Linked DNA regions of Homo sapiens. The protein of the gene in region 1 purifies or fractionates together with the protein of each later gene. This does not show direct contact. Each region holds a gene or a part of one and is shown on either strand. Other genes may lie near its edges.

Evidence for each region. Proteins that work in one complex are often made in the same cells at the same time.
Region 2: the proteins of ADD1 (region 1) and MYO10 purify together in Homo sapiens (affinity purification with western blotting; one study listed by BioGRID). This does not show direct contact.

The regions. Positions count from the first base shown.
Region 1 is NC_000004.12:2,842,325-2,846,075, reverse strand, and holds the start of ADD1 (alpha-adducin), read right to left. Parts: upstream 2,233-3,751; 5' UTR 2,052-2,232; intron 1,927-2,051; exon of another isoform or gene 1,242-1,926; intron 1-1,241. UniProt on the Homo sapiens protein: Membrane-cytoskeleton-associated protein that promotes the assembly of the spectrin-actin network. Binds to calmodulin.
Region 2 is NC_000005.10:16,670,706-16,674,356, forward strand, and holds part of MYO10 (unconventional myosin-X), read right to left. Parts: intron 3,185-3,651; coding exon 2,977-3,184; intron 2,121-2,976; coding exon 1,984-2,120; intron 838-1,983; coding exon 717-837; intron 274-716; coding exon 1-273. UniProt on the Homo sapiens protein: Myosins are actin-based motor molecules with ATPase activity. Unconventional myosins serve in intracellular movements. MYO10 binds to actin filaments and actin bundles and functions as a plus end-directed motor.

The sequences.
Region 1 (3,751 bases):
CTCATGTTTACCTTTTGTTTAAGTCTTTAAGATATACATATTGAACTATTTAACGGTTAAAGGATATCTAGGACTGCGGGGATATGATGAAGCAAGATTGACTGTTGAAACTGGTTGAGAAAAGGGGTTTATACTATTCTCTCTACATATGTGTATATGTTAAGAGGTAAACATGGAAGGAAAGAAAGGAAGGGCAGTCAATCTAACTCTAAGTTTCAAGCAATAAGTAAATATTTTGTTATCTTTCAAAGCATTTCAGTATTTACTTTTCTTATTCAATTCAAAGACTATAAGAACTAAAAACTAAAAATCATGTAAATAAACAGTTTTTATGGCAAAATCAGTAACACAAAACTGAACACCAAACAAAACCTTCTCAGTATATCAGATAACATCAAAAGAATTAAGGGGAAAAATGACCAGCTTGTACGAAGTATATTTTAGAAGGAAAACTATCTCACAATTCGGGGACTGGCTAGAGTTTAGACTCACATCACTCAGCGACTCTCCGAAACTTTAAAACCTAAAGACACCACAAGTAGAAAACTAACAAATCATACCAGCTGTCCATACCATTGTAAACCACATCGAAACTCTGAAAAGCAGTTTTGACTGCCCAAATCATCCACTTCCTGAAAAGACAACTTTACTATTCTAGTTTTCTCCACTGTCAAAATCAAAGGAGTATATTAAAATTTTAACGTAGGCCAGGCGCGGTGGCTCACGCCTGTAATCCCAGCACTTTTGGAGGCCTAGGCGGACGGATCACGAGGTCAAGAGACTGAGACCATCCTGGCCAACATGGTGAAACCCCGTCTCTACTAAAAATACAAAAATTAGCTGGGCGTGGTGGCGCGCGCCTGTAGTCCCAGCTACTCGGGAGGCTGAGGTAGGAGAATTGCTTGAACCTGGGAGGCGGAGATTGCAGTGACTGGAGATCGCGCCACTGTACTCCAGCCTGGCGACAGAGCGAGACTCCGTCTCAAAAAAAAAAGGTATCATCGCGGGCCTTTGTCCATTCAAGGCTCCAAAGTTTACAAACTCACTTTCATACAATTCACACCCTCTGCCTGAAATGCCCTCCTCTCTCTGGTGCCTGTTGAACTCCTACTCATCCACTCCAAGCTTGTTTTCACTAGGCGCCTCTACTCATAGACACAGTCGACCTATCAGCATTCTATTTCCTATCCCCATTAAGATCTCAGTCAATTTTTCACACAAAAAATCTTTCTTTAACTTACCAGTAATGCATACAGCTATCAGCTATGTCTTTGGTCTTTGGAGATATGACAATTGCTTTTTGTCTTTCTAAACATAAATTATGCTCAAACCAACAACAGTTTCAGGCGAACCAAAATACGTTTTTCAAGGTGGGTATGCATAAAGTGAATGCAAATTACCTCCCAACTATCTTGAGCCATTACAAGAGCAAAGATAAAAGTCATCCTAACAGGGAAAGGCCCTCTGACATCTCCCAAAAAACGAAAATAAAAGATTAAGAAAAAAGAAAAGAGAGGGAGGGCAAAGGTGACCAACAGCCCCATCGCTGATAAAGTTCCACGATTATCTCTCGAGCGTCCGTCGGCAGATATGGCTTTTCTCTTTTGGCAGAAGCCGTCGTTTTTAAATACGAGAGCCGACAGATGCGTCCGTACACAAACCTTGCAGCCACCAGCGCTGCGGACCGCGGAACCGGTCTCACAAGCAGGATGCTGACCAGCGTCCAGCCAGGGTCGTCCTCCTCCGCCCCCACCCCTGCAGCCCACAAGCCGGCCAGGAACGAGCGGCCCGGGAAAAGCCTAGTCCCCGGGGTCCTATCCCGATGAAAGATCTGCGGCGCCCTCGCTCCCCGGCTCGGCCCAGGCCGAAGGCCCCGCGGGGACCCCTCCAAGACGCCCTCGGCGCCGCAGCGGCCTCCCCGCCCCCGAGGCTGCCCGGGCCGCCGCAGGCCCCGCGGCCCCCGCCCGCCGCAACCGCGGCCCAGTTCCCCGCGCCCCCGCCGCCGCCTCAGCCCGAACCGGGCCCCCGCCGCCCCCGCTAGCTAGCCTCACCTCAGAAGCGAATCGTGGGCAGCGCGCGGGATTCCGGGGTCCCAGTGCGGCCACCGCCCGTCGGCTCCGGCTCCGGCTCCGCCCCCGTCCCCTGGCCCGCAGCAGCGGCCCGCCAGGCCTCTCCGCCCCTCAGCCCCTCCGCTCGCCCCCACCGCCCGACCTGGGTGCGGCCTGCGGCGCTGCAGCCCAACAACGCGCCGTCCCATAGGCCAAGCCGCGCAGCACTGCCGAGCAACGTACCCTGCGATTGGCGGGACCCATGAGGGGCGGGTCCCCTGCGGGCAGGGCGATTGGACTCGCCAGGCCCGCCTCGGGGCGACCCCGCCGGGGCCTGCGGAGGCCCAGGGTCCCGCGCGGAGTACACCCCGGCCGGCAGCTTCGGGCGCCAGGTCATGGCTTCACGGTGGCCAGGTAGACTGCGGCGAGCCCCTGCCGGGTCCGCTGGACACGGTTTCATTGTGATTGACCTCCGCCGGAGGGGCTGTCGGAGCCCAGGGACCCTGCCCTCCCGCCGCCGCCCAGCGCACTCCCCCAGCAGACGGGCCCTGCCCCGCGTAGCCCCGCCTTGTGCAGTCCCCAGGCCGAGTTTTGGGGCCCGGGTGGGGTCAAGGCAGCAGGGCCTGTGGGCCCCGATAAGGCTCCACAGAGGACAACTGCCTGGCCCCCGGGCCCGGCCTGCGGGTGCTGAGGAGACCAGCGAGCACCAGCCACCTCCGCACGACCAGGGAGTGAGCCTGCGGGGCTTTGGCAGGACCAGCCTCAGACCAGCACCTTCCCGCACACTGTCCCTCCTGCTGGCGCATCTGACACCCAAAAAAACAAGCAGCGAGACAAATGGGCACGGCTGCTTGTCCTCTTGACACCCATAGAAAGCTTAGGTCCAGAGCTGGGCAGTGGCAGAAGAGTGTGGAATCCAGACCTCCCTGCTCAGCAGGAGCCTCTGTGACATTGCCCCAACAAGGGTCAGGGATACTGTCTGGATGGAAGCCAGCGACCCCTGTTCTAACCATTTCTGTTGGACGTTGGCTTTTCCAAGACGATTTTTCTGACAAGATCACAATTCTGTCTCATTCACTTCTGCTTCCCATAGTTAATCACTAGGGAAACGCAAATCAAAACCACTGTGGGATACCACTTAACATTCATTAGGATGGCAGTTGAAGAAGCAGGGAGTTGGGCGCAGTGGCTTCAGCCTAAAATCCCAGCACTTAGGGAGGCAGAAACAGGAGGATAGCCTGAGCCCAGGAGTTGGCAGACTTGACTGGACAACATAAGGAGACCCTGTTCTCTACAAAAACGAGAAGAAAACAAAAAGTTTCAAGGGGGGAGAAGGAGGAAGAAGAGGAAAAAAAGAAAATAAGTGTTGGCAAAGATGCGGAGAAATTGGAACCCTTTGTGCATCGCTGACGGGAATGTAAAATGGTGTGGCTGCTGTGGAAAACCGTAGAGTGGTTCCTCAAAAAATTAAACATAATTACCACATAATCCAGCAATTCCACTTCTGGATATATACCCCAAAGAAATGAAAACAGCTATTTGTACCATGTTCATAGCAGCATTATGCAGAGAAGGAAATTCTATTTATTGGGGTTTTGTGCCTTTTTTTTTTTTTTTTTTTTTTTTTTGGAGTCAGGGTCTCTGTCGCCCAGGCTGCAGTGCAGTGTTGCAACCATGGCTCACTGCAGCCTTGACCTCCTAGG
Region 2 (3,651 bases), on another chromosome or scaffold:
CTGCCGGACCACGGATCCTGTCCGGAAGCTCCGCCTCAGGGTCCCCTCTAGGAAGCTCGTCCGCCTCTTCTCCAGCCGTTCACAAGGGGTGAAGGTTTTGGTTGACTGGCTGATGCGGGCCTTGAGTCTCTGCAGGGAATAAACCTCTTCGAGAGGTGGGATGGCAGCGTGCAGAGTATAATCCCCCTGCAGATACTGGAGTCGCAGGGCAGCAAGAACCTGGAGGTTTTCTTCCGGGGCTGGATGGTGGCCATGGATAACCGCTTCGTGGGCCTGAAAGGAGACAGTCAACAGCTTTCCGGTCAACGCACTGCCATGCCATGGGATGCCCACGTCGCTTGCTCCCTCACTTCATGAGGGTTTCTCTCAAACTCACCTTCCCTGACTGCCCTGGCTAAAACTGTACCCTCACCCCTGGCTCACTGCTTTAAATTTAATTTTCTCCCTAGCACAGATACCATCTAACACACGTCACATATTTTATTCCTTGTGCTCTCTCTCCTGTCAACTAGAACAGTCCCTGGAACGGAGGTTCAAATAAAATGTGTAGCAGGTTTCATTCTACAAACGAATGAAAGAGCAGCTGGTCTTGTCTTTGCTGGGAAATCCACAGGTGTGCCTCATTTCTAAGTACCAGTTAACTTACAAGGCTAAGTATTAACAGGTTTCACCCTTGCTTGCCGGCAAAGAAATCTGTTTCTAACTATTCCTTTTACCTGTTCAAACATAAATGCAAACTCCACACTGTCTTTTGGCACGTTGTCTGTGTCCAGGAAGCAGTAAAGTTTGAAGTAGAATTTCCATGGCAGGTCCCCAACCTCGGATGTGGCAGCCAGCCTACAGAGAGGAGTCAAGAGAGGCTCAGAATATGAACGAGAAGGGCCTTCAGTGACCCGCAGGGACCTGACTTTACATGGTGTATTCTAAGGACACAGACATTCTGTCCGGGCCCAGAAAACAGTGGATAGAGATGGGGATAGAGGAATAAACAGAGTGAAAAAACGTACTTTCATCCTGATTTTGCTTTAAGAAAACAAACAGGCAGCCCCTAGTTTAACCAGCTAACAAGTGTTTTCAGAGAGCCGCATTCGAATTAGTACCAGCTAAGCATTATGCTGAGTCCACGGGAAGAAAAGAAACAAAAGCCTGTTTCTTTATTACCTTTACCAAGCCTCAGATACATTATGATAACATTTATAAAAATTGATGTGAATACTCTTGTATGAGGGCTGTGTTTATACTAAGCAGGAATACCTTCGCGCTACTTCGAGGATATGAAGTCACAGATCAAATAGCGTAGGTCTACAGGCCAGGTGCAGTGGCTCACGCCTGTAATCCCAGCACTTTGGGAGGCCCAGGTGGGCGGATCACCTGAGGTCAGGAGTTTGGGACTAGCCTGACCAACATGGCCAAACCCCATCTGTACTAAAAATACAAAAATTAGCTGGGCGTGGTAGTACATGCCTGTAATCCCAGCTACTCGGGAGTCTGAGGCAGGAGAACTGCTTGAACCCAGAAGGCAGAAGTTGCAGTGAGCCAAGGTTGCGCCACTGCACTTCAGCCTGGGCAACAGAGCAAGACTCCATCTCAAAAAAAAAAAAAAGTAGGTCCATTTTATATTGTAGACATAACACATAGTTTAAAGAGTTTATAAGCTGGCTTCAGTCAATCAGCCCAATTTCAAAGCTAATGACAACTGGAAACCTAAAAAATCAAGAAATACCCAGACGGGTCCAACATGGAACTGAGAAAAGGAATGGGGTAAAAAACCACTGACAAGTTACATCACGTAAGACCGTAGCTTTATCTAGGAATCGAGAAAAATAGCGGATATGCAAAGTTAAACAGGCATCAACACAGGTAAAATAAAACTAACTCCAATACAGCGTGAAGCCACAAATGGAATGGGAAGCTCAAACCCTGAACCCTGCTCTGCAATTTCTCTTATTTGCTCTTCTGACACAGTAGGGAAAAGGAACCTACTTTTCAAACTTGGCTAAGACATCAGCTACGACGGTTCGACTTTCAATGGCTTTGTCGACGTGGCCGTTGTATTCAAACAAAGCAAACATGTTCCTGCTGTCCTCCATGGCCAGGCCTCGGATCAGCTTCTCCACCACCTGGAAGACACACCAGGGGGACTTCAGTTCCACAGGCTGCGGCCCCAACACGTGTTCCCAGAACGTGCCATCACCTGATCCCAGAGGGAGCTGCTGGCACAAGGGCGTCTCCAGCCTCCTAAAAATGTTACCCGTGTGGTCATCCCAGAATTTCAAAAGTACTATTTTCCCTTTGTTCTCTTGAGATTAGGTTTATCTCTTTCTTGCTGAAAATAACTCAGGGTATTTTGCCCATCGGTAGAGGCAGATGCTGGGCTGATTTCTTGCAAACCTATATTAACAGGAAAAGCGGGTGAAAAGCTTCAGTCCTGTCTTTTGGCTGATAAATTTATGAACTCCAAGGAACAACAGAGACTCCAGATGACGTTTTTTTTTTTTCCATAAGAAGCCTTGGGGGGTGGGGGTCGGGGTGGTGGTTATTGGATTACCACCCTTTTGGCCAACTGGTTTTATAATAGTAAGTTCAAATTTTAAAAAGAAAATGTGTTCATCTGATATTCATCTAGCTAGTCACGTGCAAACAAACACTTTGTTGCAGAAGCACTGCAATAAACCCTCATCAAAGTGGCTGGACCTGAGCCAGGTCTGCAGCTCTGCTAGACACTCAGCTGCTTCTCAGATTAGCAAGATTATGTCTCAGGTACTTTATCTCTGTGTTTCCACTCAATATATATATTTTTATCTCTATATTCGTGTGGTTGCTTCTGGGTTACATGCATTTCCTTAGTATTGAGAGCTGTACTAAGCAAACTGCAACTGTGCAGGACAGCCACTCTAATGCTGCACAATGTTCCTGACGCAGGTGTATCTGCAGCAAAGGCATCTAACAGAACAAGCAGCAGCTGCCTCTCCTCACCTCCCCAGCGGTGGTGTGGGAGTTGATGGTGATCTTGCAGGAGCCGCCGCCATGGCAATAGACCGTGGATGTCATTTCCTGCCTGTGGATCAGAGCTTCTATTTCATCTCGGGAAGGCACAAACTCTCGGCATTTGGTTTTCTTAAGAGATTCGTAAGTGAAGAGAGCGTATTTTTCCATCTCGCTTCCTGGAAACTGTTCCCGTATCCTAGGAGGCAAACACTAACTGTTAATTTTTAGACTGATGGGGGCTGGCTGCTGGGAGGAACTAGGCTGTGCCAAGGTTCTGTAGACCAAAGCAGTGAATGGTCCCCCACTGGTGAATGGAGCAAGCACCAGTGACTTCTTGGCAAGGGCCCGCTTCATTTTGTGCAGTTCAATTTAAATACAAAAAACCCCTAAAGAGCCAATGTCTCACTGGGAGCAACTGTGCTGCCAACTCACCTCTGCAGCGTTGTTAATACTTGAAAGAGTCATGCCTCATCCTATCATATGAAAATTCTTGGCCGGGCGCCGTGGCTAACGCCTGTAATCCCAGCACTTTGGGAGGCCGAGGCGGGTGGATCACCTGAGGTCAGAAGTTCGAGACCAGCCTGGCCAACACGGTGAAACCCCATCTCTACTAAAAGTACAAAAAATTAGCCAGGCGTTGTGGCGGGCGCCTGTAATCTCAGC